4 separate regions of the Homo sapiens genome follow, and all the other regions are linked to region 2. The links come from fine-mapping of genetic effects on gene expression. A gene starts in region 2. Each other region holds a variant in brackets. All regions are shown on one strand. Distances are between the middles of the regions. Region 1 has its middle 19 kb from the start of MED10. Region 2 holds the start of LINC02145 (long intergenic non-protein coding RNA 2145). Region 3 has its middle 9.1 kb from the start of MED10. Region 4 has its middle 13 kb from the start of MED10.

Region 1 (4,513 bases), 23 kb after region 2:
AGTTAAGTATATTATTGAAGAGGAAAACATTTTTAATAAATTTCACGTAGCCTAAGTGTCTGGTGTCTATAAAGTCTACAGTAGTGTATAGTAATGTCCTAGGCCTTCACATTCACTCACCACTCACTCCCTGACTCACCCGGAGCAACTTCCAGTCCTGCAAGCTCCATTCATAGTAAGTGCCCTGTACAGGTGAACCATTTTCTCTTCTTTTTTTTTTTTATTTTAAGTTCTGGGATACATGTGCAGAACATGCAGGTTTGTTACATAGGTATATATGTGCACACATATGTTTCTTGCAGCACTATTTACAATAGCAAAGACTGGAACCAACCCAAATGCCCATCAGTGATAGACTGGATAAAGCAAATGTGGCACATATACACCATGGAATACTATGCAGCCATAAAAAAGAACAAGATCATGTCCTTTGCAGGGACATGGATGAAGCTGGAAGCCATCATGTTTTGTCTTTTGTACAGTATTTTTACTACACCTTTTCTATGTTGCGATACACAAATACTCACCATTGTGTTGCAATTGCTTCCAGCATTCGGCACAGTCACCTGCTGCGTGAGTTTACAGCCTGGGAGCAACAGGCTCTCCCATAGAGCCTAGGTGTGTGGCAGGCTGCACCATCTAGGTGTGTGTAAGTACATGCTACGATGTTTGCACAACAACAAAATCACCTAACGACGGGTTTTTCCTAATGTATTCCTGTCACTAAGTCGTGACTGTGTTTGTAAATCCCATTTCACCAGCCGGTGCATACATGCATTTCTTTTATCCCCCTACCAACGCCAAAACACACCTACATTTGGCATTTGTTTTCCTCTGCTAATGGCTGCACAAAGGAAAAGTCTTTTCTTTTCAGTTTGCTCACTGATGCTGCTGCTGTGTCCCCATAGGAAAGCAGGGGTCCCACCGGGCGGGTCAGAGGGGACCAGTCTCTGGTTTCCTGAGCTCCCTGCAGCCATGGCTCCAAGCTCCGCACCGCACAGGTGATCCCACCCATCCTGGGCCCCAGTTTGGAGAAACTGTCACAACCATTGAGGAGAATTAGGAGAGACACAATAAGCATGCCTATGAGTGTGGCATACATAAAAAGTCTAGAAGGACACTCAATAAACTCAATAAACAGCCTTAGTGGTCGATCTCTGCAGAGGGGGCCAGAGAGCTGGGAGCTCAGAAACATGATGAACCAAAGCAGACACTTCCCCGTGCCATTTCTGGGAGGGCTGATTGGTGACACTTTTTTGGGTCACAGTTTGGTAATAATTAGCAACATTTAAGTACACATAATTCCATCTTAAGAAATTAATCCCAAGGGACTCCACAGATGCCAGTCCAGGACAATGAACAATGGCATACCCCATGGCACTGCTGGCATCCTAGAGTCTAAGCACATTGCGGCTCCTCCATGCCATGGGCACCACCGACGGGCCTGCCAGCCTGCCCCTGCTGACAAAGATTTGCAAAGGTATTTCAAACGAAAAAAGCAAAACCCTGAAGGGTGTGTATAATGCGATCCTCTATGTATTTTTCTAAGCACAAACCTGAATATTACGCGTAGAGGGCATCTGGTCTGCCTGGGAGGATGTCCATGGTTAAAAACACTGAGGCTGGGTCTGGAAGCTCTGCACCATTCACATTTTTCACCATGAAAAACAAGTGTGCGAAACAGCAGTGTTAAGTACGCTATCTGCTTTTGCTCGCTGCACAAAAATAACATTTGTACAAACAAAAGACTATTTAAGCTTAACAAGAGCAGCAATAAAAAACAGGTCCAAATCGATCCTGTGTATGCCCAGTTTCTGTAATGGAGGGCTCTGTGCTGAGTAAGCTCTCTGGTTTCACACTGTGCACAGTTAATAAATGGTTATTAATAATAGCAATGATAATGGCCTCCACGTGCTACTGAAATGCAATTAGTTTCACAGTGGAGCATGCTACACATCTGAGGATGAACATTCAATTTTCACTCACATCCCAAACTTTTAAGTGGTCAGACCAACAGTTTGCATAAAAGGCCCTCCTGTGTGTTGCACTGTGTCTTAATTTCATAACTCGACCGCACCCCGGGCCCCAGCTGCTGCTTTTGATTAAATCAGTGGACGACTGTATTAACATCCCTTTGGGACTCTGACACTCCAGGCTGCATGTGGCTGCAAATTAATAAATGCTGGGGCACAAAGAGACTGCCCAGAGGGCACCTTAAAATACGTGCCTCTTCCCCTAACATATCTTGGGAGAAAAAGAAGCGTCCCTGGAGGGTTGATGGGGTGGACACGCAGAGTGAGCACGGGAGCGCAGGCAGGGAAGGGACCATCTCTTCCTCATCAGCAGCCCCTCTGCAGGCAGGTGGCTGAGAAAGGCACAGGAAAAGGGCTCAGGGCGTTTTCAAGAGGAAGGCTGGGCAGGAAGGAGAGGGGAGAGAGCTGGAAGGAGGAGGCAGGATGTGGCAGGCCCTGGGGCCGTCTTTGCATCGAGCCACCTCCCCCAACCTTGAGAAGAGGAACAGGAGGTTAGGAACAGATGATGGCCCATGAAAAGGTGAAAATAAACTAGCTGTGATGCGTT[A/C]AAGAGGGTGACGCCTACGAGTCCTGCAGCCACTGCAGGCAGAGGAGGCCCTGCTTCCCTGACCCATCTGCCTGCGGCTGCAGGTGGCACCTCACAGTGGCTGTGCCTCCCAGGACTCCAGCTTGAGACTCGGGAATCCTCCCACCTGGAGAATCGGGAAGACTCCTGCTTGCTTTTCCAGTCGGATTATTTACCTCGGTCCCGCCAGCATCTATGCCCTGACTTGAGACTACTCTAGGCAGAGGCGAAGGTGAGGCCAGCCAGGGAGGCAGCAGCCGTGGATGTGGGCAGGGCCATGGACGGACAAAGCAGCTCCTCTGCAGCTCCCGGACGCAACCTCTGGTGAGCACTGTCACCAACCATGCCATTCCTCAGCACTCCCAGAGGGAGCCTGCAGACAGCCCCGCGTGGATGGCTGCTGCTTCTTATTCCAAACTCTGTCTAGACTGAGGCGCAGTGCTGGGCCTTGCGCTCATCAGATAAACTAAACTTGAAAACTCACAATGACGCATCCGGGGTTTAAATTTACTTACATGAAATTCAATTTTTAGCCTTAAGTCACTCCTACAAAGTAAGTTTCTACAGGAAAGGGCCAACATGAGCACCCAGTGAATGGAAATCCAGGCCATCCTCATCCTGAAGGTGCCAGAGCAGGCCCCGCCGGCTGCCTGAGAGCTCCCATTCCTTGTCAGTCCCCTCTGCCCCTGCCTGCCTCAGTTCTCTGCCCCTGCCTGCCTCTGTTCTCTGCCCCTGCCTGCCTCAGTTCTCTGCCCCTGCCTGCCTCTGTTCTCTGCCCCTGCCTGCCTCAGTTCTCTGCCCCTGCCTGCCTCTGTTCTCTGCCCCTGCCTGCCTCTGTTCTAAGGACTGTAAGAGCTAAACCTAAGATCACTCGACTCCCTCGTAATCGGGGGCGGGGGGCCATGCGACAGTGTTCTTGTCCATGAGATGTGAGCAGAAGTCCATGAGAAAGACAGCCCTTCCAGAATAAAATGGCAAAGCTTCCACAGGAGAAATCTTTTTGCCCGTCGGCCTTTGCCCTCCCTCTATGTTATTCCTGCCTGGAATGCAAACGTGATGCCTGGAGGTGCAGCAGCCATCTTGTAATGTGAGGACAGAACCCATGCTGAGGATGGCAGAGCAGACAGGTGAGCCTGGGTCCTGGCTGATGCCTGTGAGGAGCTACTGCTGTCTGGGCAGACAGCTTAGCATTGCTGTTGCAGGAGAAAAATTAATTTCTATCTTTGCATCTCATTCTTAGCTGAACCTTTCCTAATTTGCAGCAAACCTACATGAAACAGTAAAGGACAATCACAGTTAAAATAAATACAACACATATGTGTAAATATACGTTTATAATTATTTTTGGTGCATATTTAAATTAAGGGAGAGAAGTTACGTAAAATTATTTTCAAAATTTTAAGGTATGATGGACATTATTATCCTGTATAAGATGGCTCACTCCTAAAAAAACCTGGAAAACTTCAACGATAGTGGAAAAACAGAGACGCTTTTTAATCCATCATGAAAAATCCTAGCACAAGCCCAAGTGGAAACACTATTCCCCAACAGAAATGCAAAGGCAGAAAAGCCCCCTGAAAGAGGGATCCTAGCAGTCAGCCTTCCTCCTACTGAAAGAGGGATCCTAGCAGTCAGCCTTCCTCCTACATGACTGCCTTAATTGTTGGGCAGTAAATGGCTTTGTAGAATGTAACGTGGTCACAAAACCCCAAGGAGCCAACTGCAGAAGGAGAGGCAAGCAGACCCAGTGCCAAGCAGAAGAGGGCAGGGCCATGAAGGAAAACCAAGGGACATGTGACCGCCTGAGCACCAGAGAAGCCCCAGCTACAACCGGTACTCAAGGGGCAGCCCCACCTCTCTGCTGCTTTGCTGATTCCTGATTCTGAGCAAAGGATGCTATAAATAAAGCTAGAAA
Region 2 (4,513 bases):
CCTTTACAGATTGGACAAACCCCCTTGACACCGTACCTCCGTGTGAACATCACACAGCAATTCATGGAAAGCGTGCACCCATTAGCAGGATGGGAGAGGCTGGAAACCAGCCCTGGCACATTCAAGATGCCCTCCTATGGGAGGAAGAATTGCAACAGCATTTTGTGCTCTGAATGCCCAGTCTATAGGAAGATGAACAGAATGTGCACTAAATATTTAGGCATCTGAGCTGTGGTAGCTCATGGCAGGAAGCCACGCTCACCTCCCAGGACCTGATTCTGCCATAATACACTGTCCCAGAACCACTATAGATCACCTCACCACTGGCTGAGGAAGACAAAGACAGGAGCTGAGTGTAGATGGGCAGCAGGCTCATCCTTGTCTCCCTTCTGCTGGCTGATGCACACCTTGTCCAGCTTGCTTAAGACACATGCTCCAACACCTGTCATTGTCAGGCATTAGATTCGTGGCCATGCCTGCTGTGCCCACCAAGCTGCCAGCACCACATGGCTGCTGCTCACTGGTGTGCGGTGTGTGCCCAGCCTGAGGGCCAGGCGAGCTCAGGACACAGACCTCCCAGTGCCAGCACATAGGAAGGCCCTGGTAGCTGGCCAGGGAGGCCTAAGCTCACTTCAGTCATCAGACACGAAGTTCCATTCTCTAAGGATATCATCTGGGAGGAGGTGAAGCCTTTCTGTCTTGAAGGTTGGGTCTACCTCCAGGTGTGAAGGAAGGACATTTCATATACAGGGGAAAGAGGTATTGGCCAAGAAATATGGAGCCCAGATTCAAAGGGGGACAGAGACCCCATCTCTTGATGGAAGGAGGGTCAAGGAATTTTAGAAACTTATTTTCCCCAAACTTCTAGAGTTGTTGACACCAGTTGTTTATTTGTCACATTGCTTATTTATTCACTTACTTATTCTTTAAAAGTTATTTTAAGCATAATTAAAGATATAATTCATCTCAGACTATTATCACGAGATTATTGTCTTATTATTACCTTCCACACTCCAAAGCCACCACCCTTGGATGACATAAATATCCAATGACTATTTATCAGAACCATAGGCATTTTTATCTACCTGTCACCTTGCAGGGTCAACATTTACAAACACGTCGTTATTACAGGAACACAGAATAAGATAATGATCTTATTATCAAGACCACAGATAATAATCGTGGCTCGTTGAAGCCCTTTGAACCCAACAGCTGTGGGCCCATCTGGAGCTAGTGGCCTTACTTCTCTAGATCAGATTTGCACACTTTGAAAACTGCAGCAGTTAGGAAGCTGCAGCATCCCACAGGGGGAAGCAGCTCAACAGCCAGAGCTGGGCTGAGAAGCGGGTATCTGGAAGCTTGCTCCTTAATGCCTCCTGAGGAAGCGCTGGGCACACACCTGGCACAGCCCACATGCAAGAGTTAGCACCACCCGCACACATAGTGCTCAGCTGTTCCTTTGGCAGCACTGTTGTTAGCAATGTGTGACCGCATTGGGAGGGGGTCTGAGTACCATGGAGGTGACTGAGATGCTCTGTACCTCTGTTACTTAGCACAGTGCAGGGCAGGAAGCAGGAAACTCAACAGATGTCTATTCAATGATTGATGGGCAGCTGCCAAGCAACTTCCAGAGTAGGGGGTCCCATGATGCAGATCCCTCCTCCCCACCCACTCCATGTCAGCCTTATTTCAGGCCTCACAACATCCCACTTGAAATATTAACTGAGCTCTTGGCCTCAGTCATCGTGTTCTCCTGTCACCACTGCACCATCTCAAAGTGGCCCTTCCTACCCCACTAGGCTTCCCACTGCCCCGCACACAGCCAAAGCCCTGCCCTCACAGCCTGGCCCTCCAGATGTCTGCAGCCTGGGCCCCATCTGTCTTCAGACTTCGCTTCCCATAAAGTTTCCTCATCTGGCTTTTGGTTTTGTTTCACAAATAAGCCACACACACATGCACACACAAAGAGGTACATGCACACACAAAGAGGTACATGCACACATGTGCAAACATCTGTGACCACAGACCCAGATGCCAGCACACACGTGCACACACACTCATGCTTCCAGGTGCAAATACACATACATACACACACACACACACACACACACCAGCTCCATACTTTAAACCTCTTTCCCCTGTATATGAAATGTCCTTCCTTCACACCTGGAGGTAGACCCAACCTTCAAGACAGAAAGGCTCCACCTCCTCCCAGATGATCTTCTTCCCAAGTTGCAATTGAGTTCTCCCTCCCCATTTCTCTATACAGCGGCAACAGACTCACCATCACGATACCATTGCCGTCTTCTCTCAATGCAGGTGCCGTCCATGCTGTGAGTCCCTGGAGAGCAGCAGGGATACTTTTTACAGCTTTTTCGATGCTCACTTACGGCCCCCAGCAGAGAGCACCTCAGCAGGTGCTCCAAGAACGATGTTGCCTTGGAAAGGTAGCGAGGCCCTGAAACACAGAGAATAAGGGCAAAGTCTGGGCTGCTCTCAGAGCCTCAGGGCCCTGCCACCCCAAAGTCCTAGGACAGGGAGCGTGTCCTCTAACTTTTCTCTCTCCCTGCACTTTATCTCCACCAGGAATTCTCAACCTTTTTTGTTCTAATAGAGCTCTCTTCAACCGCCTGAAAAAGTTCCTAATCCTTTTATAAAATATTGTCTTAAAATGCACATAATAGGCTGGGCACAGTGGCTCCTGCCTGTAATCCCAACACTATGGGAAGCCGAGGCAGGTGGATCACTTGATGTCAGGAATTCGAGACCAGCCTGGCCAATATGGTGAAACCCCGTCTCTACTAAAAATACAAAAATAAGCCAGGCATGGTGGTGCACGCCTGTAATCCCAGCTACTCAGGAGGCTGAGGCAAGGAGAATCACTTGAACCAGGGAGGCGGAGGTTGCAGTGAGCGGAGATCATGCCATTGAACTCCAGCCTGGGCAACAGAGTGAGACTCCATCTCAAAAAAAAAAAAAAAAGAAATGCACAAAATAAATATTACAAAGGGCCTGAGTGATGCTGAAATCCAGCTCTGCGTTCACACTTGAGTTGGGGGATGGCAGGTTCCCCAGCACCGTGTGCTCCCAGGTTCCCAGCAAATGTGAGCTCACTCTCCCTGGAGCCCTTGCCCTGGGTCCTGATCACCAGCCCCCTCTGGTTGATCTTCCCTCAGGTAGGAAGTAGCCCTGAGGAGGGGGAGCACAGAGGAGTTGTGGGCAGGGGTGCAGAAGGAGAAAATATGTTGAGGACAACAGCATCAGAGGCCAAAGGCAGACTCTGGCTGCTGGTCTGCACAGACCACCATCTATGGGTTGCAGAATCTGGGTGGACACGTAAGGAGAGGAGGGAAAAGAGAGAGAAAAAAAAAACTGTCACAGGCAAGCACAAAGAGTAGCTGCCCTCAATTAGGGCTAGTAAAGAATTGTTCCCACTGCACGGGGTTTTCCAACTGCAATCTTTGGGCTTGTGAAGCATTTTCTCTGCATCTGTTGTTGATGCCATTAAGTAGAATGAGTCACTGTATATATTAAGCACTAAGACCAGCAGCGACATAAGTCTATGAATTCAATGATCATGCCAGCTTTAAGTAGAAAAGGAGCTTTTTTTTTTTTATTAAACCAGTGGCAAAGCAGAGGAAATCAAGTAATTTTTACATTATAAGATTTTTGCTTTTTTTTATACTGTGTCTATTTCCTTTTAATGACAGTTATCAAAAGTCACTTTTGGGAAAAGGCTTTGAAATTGAATAGAAAAATCTCATGCATTTACTTTTCCTGTTTTTCTGAAATTCAAATAAGATGTGAGCGACAGGCGCTGAGTGCTCCAGCCCCCATGCTCAGCAATCGCAAGCTTTCTTCAGACCTCTCTTTGCAAGCTCGGGAGGAGACCAGAGAGGTTCCTTAGGAGGATCCCTGGCTGGAATCTAGGCCAGGAAGCCAACAGCAAAATGTGTTTGGGGTGAGCATCTGTGTTTGGGGCCTTCTGGCATGGTAACACTCTGACCTGGGGTGTTCGACATCACTTGTGCTCTCAGCACAGCTTCCAGAACAAGCCAATGGCCCCAACAAAGGACAAAGGGTCCAGAACCATGTGACCAGAAAAGGAAGACAGCCAGGTGTATTTGACAGCTCCCAGAATGACCTGGCCAGACACTCAGAAGGCCACGGAAGCTTCGCTCAGGCATGCTGCCAGTGTGTGTTTATGTCCCAAACCCTCACACAGCATTTGCTACCTGACTGGCCTTTGGCAAAGGGCTTTAGAGATGTTCCCCCAAGTCCCACATGGCACAGAGGGCAGGTGCGCATGCTGTGACAATTTCACAGGTGAGGAAAGGGAGGCCCAGGGAGCTTACAGAGCTCATGAGAGGTGCAGCCAGGATGTGAGCCCAGCCAGCTGGCCCCACAGCCTGTGCCCATGTGTGACAGGTGCCCCTCTGCCCCTTTCGTGGGGTCACATTGCCTAGTTGCATCAGAAACTTAACCCAACCTTACAGCTTGGTGTGTGGGTGGG
Region 3 (4,513 bases), 32 kb after region 2:
GACTGAGAGGATGAAATACGAGTATGACTGGAGTGAAAATAAATAAATAAAAGCAAGGAAATGGGGTATTTAGGAGACTTAGTGATGGCAATGATACCAGGGCAGGGGAAGAGGGAGGGACAGAAAGGAGGCAAAGATGATATGACCAGCTGAAAGTTCATGCCACTTTCTGAGGCAGACACAGAGGGAGACTTGGGTAGGAAACGTATCTGTGTAATTTTAGAGACACTGAGTTGGAGGTTCCTGGGGAATAGCAGAGGGGGAAAAAAATGGAAGTTGGGTTACAGAAGTGTAGGACTCATTTAGGCTGGGCTATAAACCTGGAATCTCAGCACAGGATGGTAACCGGTGCCAGGGAATAGATGAGCTTGTCCAGGGAGAGGGTGGGTAAGGAAAGATGCCTCGAGGAACCCAAACCTGAACCTCTGCTGGAGCATGCTGTTTAGAAGTCAAGGAAAGAGAGGGCTCTCCGGAAGCTGTGCTGGTTGGAATGGGGTCTGGATTCAGCATTTTAATAAGCTCCTTGGTGGTTCTGCCACGAGTAGGCAGAAGTCTGCCTTGGAGAAACTCATTCAGATGGAGCTTGGACAAGGCCGACCCTCAGCTAATGTTGACTGAATCAACGTGTTTTGTAATTATGTATTTGTCCGTCTTTCTGTATCAATACATACAGATCTTCATTCCTTCATTCATGTTAGTCATAGCACAGTTATCCAGCAAATGGATAAAGCACGATTTATCTAAGCCATTATTAATGGACATTCAAGTTATTGCTTGAATATAATGTAAAATTTATATAATGTAAAATTTATATAATGTAAAAATTAACACCTGCCTATTCTTCTGCTGGGTTTTCTTATTTGTGAAAGAGCTCTGCATAGTAGTCATGAAGTTCCTTGTGATATGTATAATAAGTATTACAACTGGGCTCAGTGGCTCACACTTATAATCTCAGCATTTTGGGAGGCCAAGGAGGGAGGACCACTTGAGGCCAGGAGATTGAGACTAGCCTGGGCAATATAGTGAAACCTGATCTTTACAAATGAAAATAAAAAACATTAGCTGGGCATGGTAGTGCACACCTATAGTCCCAGCTACTCAGGAGGCTGAGGTGGGAGGATCCCTTGAGCCCAGGAATTTAAGATTACAGTGAGCTATGATTGTGCCACTGCACTCCAACCTGGGCCAGAGTGAGTCCCTGTCTCTATTTTTAAAAAAAAAAAAAAAAAAAAGAACTTTCTTAGCTTTTTTGCCTTTTGAGTTTATGGTGTTTTTAGCCTTATGTTATTTATTTTTTTCTAACAGCTATACAGCCAAATGTATCGATCTTTTCCTTTGTAACTTCTTAGGTTTGTGATACATTTAAAAAGTTTAAGAAGTGGTACACCTGCCACCTAACGTCACCTGAGTCTTGACAGAACCAAGGACTGTATATTGTCGAACTCCCTTGGGGCAATGGCACCTCTGTCACTTGGACAGATGGGTCACTTCTGTGCAGGTGAGTGGCAGGAAACACAGCAGGCTCACCTGGCTATACAGGGTAAACATGTGACCTCGTTTGTAGCCAGCACCTGTATTGTCACTGACTGTAGAAATATTTTAATGAGGCACTCATATATATTTGATAGGATTCAAAAAATGGAAATAAAAAAAGAACACAGAAAACTGATAAACTACTCAGTGACATTACTGATACTCCCCAAAGATGAGCGCTTCCCCTTGTACCTAACACCTGGTTATTTCAGGACTTGAGCACAATAGAGACAGATGGTATCACAATCCTAATCAAGTGTAACTCCAACAGCTCAACTTCCAGGAATTTACCCTAAATAACAATTGAACAAGTGGAAGATGTATGGTCAAAGATAATAACTTCATATTAGTGAAGAACTGGGAAGCACACAGGTACCCAATGGGAGCTGATAAACTAAGCCCAGGAGAGCCACAGTCTTGTGACGTGGCAGGCACAGGCCCAGCTCTCCCATTCGTTAGCTGGGTGACCTGAGCAGGCGCCTCAGGTCCCTCATCTGTAAACCTCACCGATTTACTGTGGGAATTGAGGCAATGCATGGAAAGTGCTTAACCTGTGTCCAGCATGTAAATAACAACACATCTGCTGTTAGCACATTAATGGAACGCTAAATATTAAAATTATGTGAGAGGAAGTTTGAGTTGCCCAGATTTCATGGCATCCTGTTAAAAGAATAAAGGTTACCAACTCATGTGCATAGTAATAATTCCACATCTAGTTGTTCAGTGTGTGTGCACATCTGTGCAAGAGGAGAACATCTAGATGGATGAAAATCACAATAGTAACAATTTGGGCAGAAATGTGGAGATTTTTGTAGCTCTATTTTTCAGTTTTCTGTAATGAACCCTTCTGATTGTACACCCAAAAAGATAAAGAATGTTCTAGTTCTGTGTAAAGGTGGGGCTTAATTTTCGCTTTTTCATTCTGACCCACAGAGGCAGCACAGATTATCTAGAACAGTGACACAGGCTCAGGCCCTGTTTGAGTCCATACCTGCCTCGTGGTGGTTCAGCGGTGTCCTTGGGCATAACAAAAATCAGTAGGCCCTGGGGCTGTTTGCCCGATCTGTGTCTGCAGGAAGAAAGGGGTGG[G/T]GAAGAAGAGGTCAGAAGCAAAGCAGGGATTGGAACGAACTGGGTGGCAATGGGCAGGGGTGATGTGAAGCAGCTGATCGAAATGGCTGATACCGTCCCAGGATGACTCTCGCAATCATTCTTTTAACCAAAATGAGGTCTTTGAGAAGAAGGGATGAAGGGCCAGCCAGGTGTGTGCACCTGAACCCAAGCTCCTCCGGGTGGAGAGCTCTGGAAGGCAGTGTCAGTGACAGTCACAGCATGCCTCGCCGAGTGTCAAACGCGGCCTGGAACCCTCCAGTCCTCTCACACTGACATCAATTCCGAGCTAAGTAGATTCCTCAGCATTTCAGGAGATTTGAAAGTGATGGGCACTTGTGACTAACAGTAATGGCAGGTGGGGTGGAATTAAGGGGCATGTGGCCTGTCACAGTGTCGAGGGGCTCCAACACCTCTTCATTGCCTGGGGACCCACTGTGGTGGTGTCATCAGACACACTGATGAAAGTTAGGAGTTCCAAGGCAGTGCATCCATATACCCAAACTTTTACTCAAAAAAAGACTGGTGAATATTCCAGAATAATGTGTGACAGCTACACCGCCCCTGCTGGGCCTAGGTCAGCAGACTTGTCATGCTGTGGGCTACCAGATACGCATCTCTAGCTGACAGTCACCCTCTCTTCCCAAGGCTCAGACATCAAGATTAAAACAGCTTGAGGCCACCCGATTAACTCAGTCCCAGGATATGTAGAACAGCCCCTACTGCCGGCACATCCTCCATGTTTCAGAGCCCAGGAAGAGGGGACTGTGGACACTTTGGACCCACCCAGAACCAGCACAGAGGGAGGCGAAGCTGCAGGGCTTCGGGCACGTTAAGCCCTGGTGCCCCAGCTTCAACATCAGTAATATAAAGAAAGCCGGACCTCACAGGGCTGGTGAGGGCCAGGTGAGTTGATGCAGGTGAAGTGTGTGGGAAGAGCCCAGCGAGCCGCGTGCCCACATGGCCCTCGTGCAGCAGCCAATAGTCAGCATCCTGATGCCAGAAAAACAAGGCGGAACAGCGATTCAGGCACCCGAACCTGCCAGCAGGGGCCTCCTCTACTCTAGCAGAAATTCTTCCCCTTGGTAGCAGTAGGAGTCCTTTTCTGGTGCTGTTTTGGAGAGAACAGAACTGCTAGCGAGGGACCAGCTTCCTAAGGGGCCTGGCCCCTGACTCTTGGTAAATACGACCCTCCTGGGGAGTATTCTGGACTGAGTTGCATCCCTCCAAAACTCCAGTGTCAAAGCCCTAACCTCAGGACCTGAGAATGCAACTGTATTTGGAGACAGGTTCTTCAAAGAAGTAAGTTAAAAATGGGTCCTTCGGGTGGGTCCTAATACCATCTAACTGCTGTTCTTAGATTCTAAAGAGGTTAGGACACACAGAAGAGACACCAGGGCTGTGACACACACAGAGGAACGACCACGTGAGGTCAAAGTAAGCAGGTCTGCAAGCCAGGGAGGCCTCGGGAGAAACCCACTCTGCAGGCACCGTGAGCTTGTACTTCCAGCCTCCAGAACTGTGGGAAAATACATGTTTGTTGTTCAAACCACCCAGAATGTGGTGTTTTATTCCGGCAGCCCTGGCTAGGATCGAGGCTGGTTCAGGATCGCTCGTAGGAGGCAAATTAACACAGATTCCCAGGGCCCATCCTAAAGCCTGAGGCTCAACACGTCTGAACTGGGGCCCTACCTTAATAACAAGCCTGCCCAGGCCATTCGGACACAGGGGTCTATAGGTCAACCTCCGCACAGGCCGCACTAGGGCCTCAACTCCAAGGGTGGCCCACAGATCACAGAAACAGCACCACCTGCAGTTCATGAAAAATGCAGTTTGCAAGGCCCAACGGACGTGTGAATCCGAACCTGCAGGT
Region 4 (4,513 bases), 55 kb after region 2:
TTTAAATCCACCTATAACCTGTGGGCCCCCAACTTCCAGTTGTCCTACGTTTTTAGGTCAAACCAACGTATAGTCTCCATATTTGAATTTATGACTTTACTTGTAACCTCTGCCTCCACGTTGGTAAAAACCCTCACCTATGAGCCATCTGGGAGTTGGGTCTTGAACATGGGATGCCTGATTTTCCTTGCTTGGGGCCCTACATAAACGCCTCACTTTCTCTTGCTACTATCCCAACATCAGTCTTTGACTTCGCTGCACCCAGTGAACAGATCCCTGCTGGATTCACTTACATCAGATTTCTCCTCCTGGAAATAGAAGAAATGTGCCTATTGATGTGTGGAGCATCTCGCATGGCACCTGGAATGTAGAAGGCATTTGGTAAACGTGGCTTCCTTCTATCAGTTTCTACCCAAAATGTGCAAAGCCAAGCTTTCCTTTTTGTGCTGTATACTGGCTCCTTCTTCCAAAAATGTATTTGATGATGTCATTCCTCAACCTAAAACCTCCTGACATCACCCCGCTGTCTACACCAGGGATGTTAAAATCCTCTCTCTGCATAGCCCCATCCCCATGACCATGTACTCACTCTATTACCCCAATTCTCTGGGTGAGGCAGGAGGAGAGGAGTGGGTGCATGTGCCCCTGGCAGAGGGAAAGGATTCTCGGAGGGGTGAGACAAGTAGTGTGAAAAGAGTCGACCTCCAGGAAGCTGCTCTGCAGCCCTCATTTCTCCTTTGAGAATCGCTGGTCCTCAGAACAAGTTCTAAATCCTTACCACCTGATCTGATACCACCTTCCCACTGACCAGTGCCCTACAGCCTCATGGGACCCTCACCAATCCCGCCTCTTTGCCTTTGCTGGTTTCTTTTCTCTGCTTTAAAGTCTTCTTCCATACCTTCTGCTTTACTTGGGGAAATCTGAAATAAATGTCAGCATGTTGGTGAAGCTTTTGCTTACTGCCTCAGGCAGAATTAATAGCTTCCTGGTCAGCTCTGACACATCTGGGCCCTGTTCCCTCCTCAGAGGTAGAGAATCTGCTAGAGGCTGAGAACCGTCTCCACCTTTAGACAGAATGCGTTTAGTGGTTACTGCCTGCATCCCAATGAAACCTGCTCTGCCCTTCTGCCATAGAAATGGAATTGAAGCCAGACCCATTGCTACCCACTGTCTGTGTTTCCCGTTGGTATGGTTTGGCTGTGTCTTCCCACCATTCTCATCTTGGATTGTAGTTCCCATAATCCCCACGTGTCATGAGAGGGACTCGGTGGGAGGTAATTGAATCATGGGGGCAGTTTTCCCCATGCTATTCTCATGATGGTAAGTTCTCATGAGATCTGATGGTTTTATAAGGGGCTTCCCCCATCACTCGATTCTCATTCTTCTCTCTCCTGCTGTCTTGTGAAGAAGGATGTATTTGTGTCCCCTTCTGCCATGATTATAAGTTTCCCAAGGCCTCCCCAGACCTGTGGAACTGCGAGTCAATTAAACCTCTTTCCCTTATAAATTGCCCAGTCTCAGGTATGTCCTTATAGCAGTGTGAGAACAGACTAACACACCCAGGCTTCCCTGAAGTGAGCTGTGGCCTTTGCACTAAGGGATGGGAGCAGGAATGATGGGTATCTGCTCGGGGTGGGAACATGAGGCATCAGGTGCATCTTCTTCAGGCTGTCCCTGATGTGCTGGTGATTGGTCCCACCAGGCAGGTGACAGTACCCCAGAGCAGTGGAACACTCTGAGATAATAGAAGTGTTTTGAGATCTGTGCTGTCCAACACGCGAGCCACTAGACACTTGAGCTATGGCTAGTGCAACTAGGAACTGAAATTTCAATTGTCTTTAAATGTATTTAAATTAATTAAAATTAAAATAGTCACATGTCACCAGCGGCAACTGTATCAGCCAGTAGAGCCCCTGAGGATGGAGGAGCAATGGTTTGGAAGGAACATGGATCTTAGAATGCCCAGTGGAGCAGAGATTCTCCACCTAAATGGATTACTTATCTCAGAACAGTTGAGTGAGAGAAAAACAAGGCAATGTTTTAGGACAGTTAGGAAGATAGTATCAATAGTATGACATAATGGGTATATCAGGGACTTGGGGCTCACCTTTTGAGTTCAAATCCTAGCCCTACCACTTAATAACTGTATGGCCTTGGGCAAATGACTTCATTTCCGTGTGCCCCAGAATTCTCCTCACTGCACTGGGGACACTGAGTCCACGTATCACCTGGGTTTGTTGTGAGAATCAAATGAAGTAATAAATGTAAAACACTTAGAATATGGCATCCCCATTTGTTAGCTACTGTGATGACATTTGAGGTCTCTGTTACAGCATCTTAGCTTTGCACGAATGCACCTGGCTTTGCATCACGGCTCCCACATCTACCACTCGGGTGCCATTTGTTTTCTCAGGTTCTTGGGGGTGATGCGAGTGAAGTACTGAGTGCTGTGTCTGGCCCCCATCAAGCACTCAATGTTGGTAGTCACCCTTATATAAAGTGTCATGTTGTCATATCAGTATCTGTTTGGATGTCTCCCTTGGAGGTGTCTCTAGGATAGGGACTGTCATTTCTCTTTTTGTTCTTCATTGATTAGCACAGTGAAGGTACTCGGTACATGGTTACTGAATGATTGGCTGATTGCATAAATAACTCTTCTAGTGTTAGTTTACCTGAAAACCCAATACT[G/A]TACCTATTGAGGCTTCTGAGGTGTCCCCTGGCCATCAAATCCCTATGGTACTCTAACAGCAGCATGGCCAAACAAAGGCATTCTGTCCCTGCTGCCCAGATCCTTCCTCACCCTTTACCTTTGCAACACTGAGCGGAACGGCTCTTCACGGGGATGGCCACTCACCCAGGCATCATTAGGAAAGGTGAGGGGGTGTTTTTCGGTGTCACAACACCTGGATAACTGTGTTCTCCAGCTTCCTCTTGCTGCTGTAGCAAATTACTGCAAATGCAGTGGCTTAAACAACACACACTCAGTCCATAAATTCTGAAGGTGAGAACTCTGAAGTGAGTGTCATGGGACTAAAATCAAGCTGTTTGCAAAGCTGCACTCCTTCTGGGGGCTGCGGGGAGAATTGGCTTCCTGCCTTTCCCAGCTTCTGGGAGCTGCTGCATTCCTTGGCTCCCGGCCCCTCCTCCATCCACAAAGCTAGAAATCCCATCACTCTAGCCTCTCCTTCTGTCCTCACATCTCTCTCTCTCTCTCTGACTTTGCCTCTCCTGCCTTCCCCTTGCTTTCTAAGGGTCCTTGGCATGTTGTGTTACATTGTGCCCACCTGCATAATCCAAAATAACCTCCTGATGTGGTTTGGCTATGGCCCTACCCAAATCTCATGTCAAATTTTAACCCCCATATGTTAAGGGAAGAACCTGGTATGAAGTGATTGGATCATGGGGGCAGATTTTCCCCTTGCTGGTCTCATTGATAGTGAGTGAGTGAGTTCTCACAAGATCTGATGGTTTAAAAGTGTGTAGCCCTTCCCCCTCCCTCTCTCTCTCCTGCCACCATGTGAAGATGGTCCTTGCATCCCCTTCACCTTCTACCATGAGTGTAAGTTTCCTAAGGCCTCCAAGTCATGCTTCGTGTCAAGCCTGCAGAACCATGAGCCCGTTAAACCTCTTTTCTTCACAAATTACCTAGTCTCAGGCAGTTCTTTACAGCGGTGTGAAGACAGACGACTACACCTCCTTATTGTAAAGTCGACTGATTACAACCTTAATCCCACTCAGTGCCTTAACTGTCCTGGCCATGGAACCCAACACACTCACAGGCTCTGAAGAGAAGGACATCTTTGCTGGCTGGTAGGGAGGGATTCTTCTGCCCACCAAAGTAACTCTGTGGGCACAGGGTAGGTTGGAGCCTGGGGACACCACACACCATGAGACACTCCTACACAACAGAGTGTACCCCTCAAATGCCAATAGTGCCCTCTTGAGAAATGCAGCTGGAGTCCCACTACTCTAAGCTGCTTTGTGTGTGGTGAGGAATAAAAGGACAGGGGAGCTTTGCTTTTCATCTCAAGTTTCCCTCTAAATCTGTAATTGCAGCCTCCAAAAAAGAAAGAGAAACCAACTTCTCTTGCTTCTTGTAAGAGGAAGAGAAAGAGAAATGAGAGAGACACCTGTGCAGGTACTCAGAGACCAGTGCAGCCCTTCTCCCATGCAGAGACCAGAAGCTCAGCTTACAATTACCAGCCTTCCTGCATGAGTGTGCAGGTAAGGAGGCCCCACCTGTCAGAAGCAGTCCTGCAGGACATTGACTTGAAATTGAGCCCAGTGGGGGAAAGGTGGGTGCCTGTGTCCTCCATACTGATGATGCAGACCAGAGTCGGGAGACAGAGCTTGAGAGTCACAGGTGGCTTCCACATGTTCACCCATGTCTGCTGCAGAGATCTAGGCTTCTCTAGCAAGGCATAAAAGGGGCTGCAGGTAACTAGAGCTGTGTCCAAGGTGTCCAGAGGTTTCCAAGCACTTAGTTCTTTGCACTCAGTTGCTCTCTGCGACT

Evidence for each region. PIP is the estimated chance that this variant, and not a neighbour inherited with it, causes the effect.
Region 1: its variant is the best candidate, but not a certain one, in a credible set for the expression of LINC02145 in caudate (GTEx, PIP 0.67).
Region 3: its variant is the best candidate, but not a certain one, in a credible set for the expression of LINC02145 in testis (GTEx, PIP 0.82).
Region 4: its variant is the best candidate, but not a certain one, in a credible set for the expression of LINC02145 in thyroid (GTEx, PIP 0.52).

Annotation. Positions count from the first base shown.
Region 1 is chr5:6,357,642-6,362,154 of GRCh38, forward strand. No RefSeq gene overlaps it. Among named protein-coding and RNA genes, the nearest start is that of MED10, 19 kb to the right of the region's middle. The variant A/C (reference allele first, on the strand shown) is at 2,581.
Region 2 is chr5:6,334,866-6,339,378 of GRCh38, forward strand. LINC02145 (long intergenic non-protein coding RNA 2145) reads right to left here and starts at 2,427. Exons shown (of 2, transcript NR_028351.1): 1 at 2,285-2,427.
Region 3 is chr5:6,367,148-6,371,660 of GRCh38, forward strand. No RefSeq gene overlaps it. Among named protein-coding and RNA genes, the nearest start is that of MED10, 9.1 kb to the right of the region's middle. RefSeq lists a silencer at 270-437. The variant G/T (reference allele first, on the strand shown) is at 2,623.
Region 4 is chr5:6,389,651-6,394,163 of GRCh38, forward strand. No RefSeq gene overlaps it. Among named protein-coding and RNA genes, the nearest start is that of MED10, 13 kb to the left of the region's middle. The variant G/A (reference allele first, on the strand shown) is at 2,689.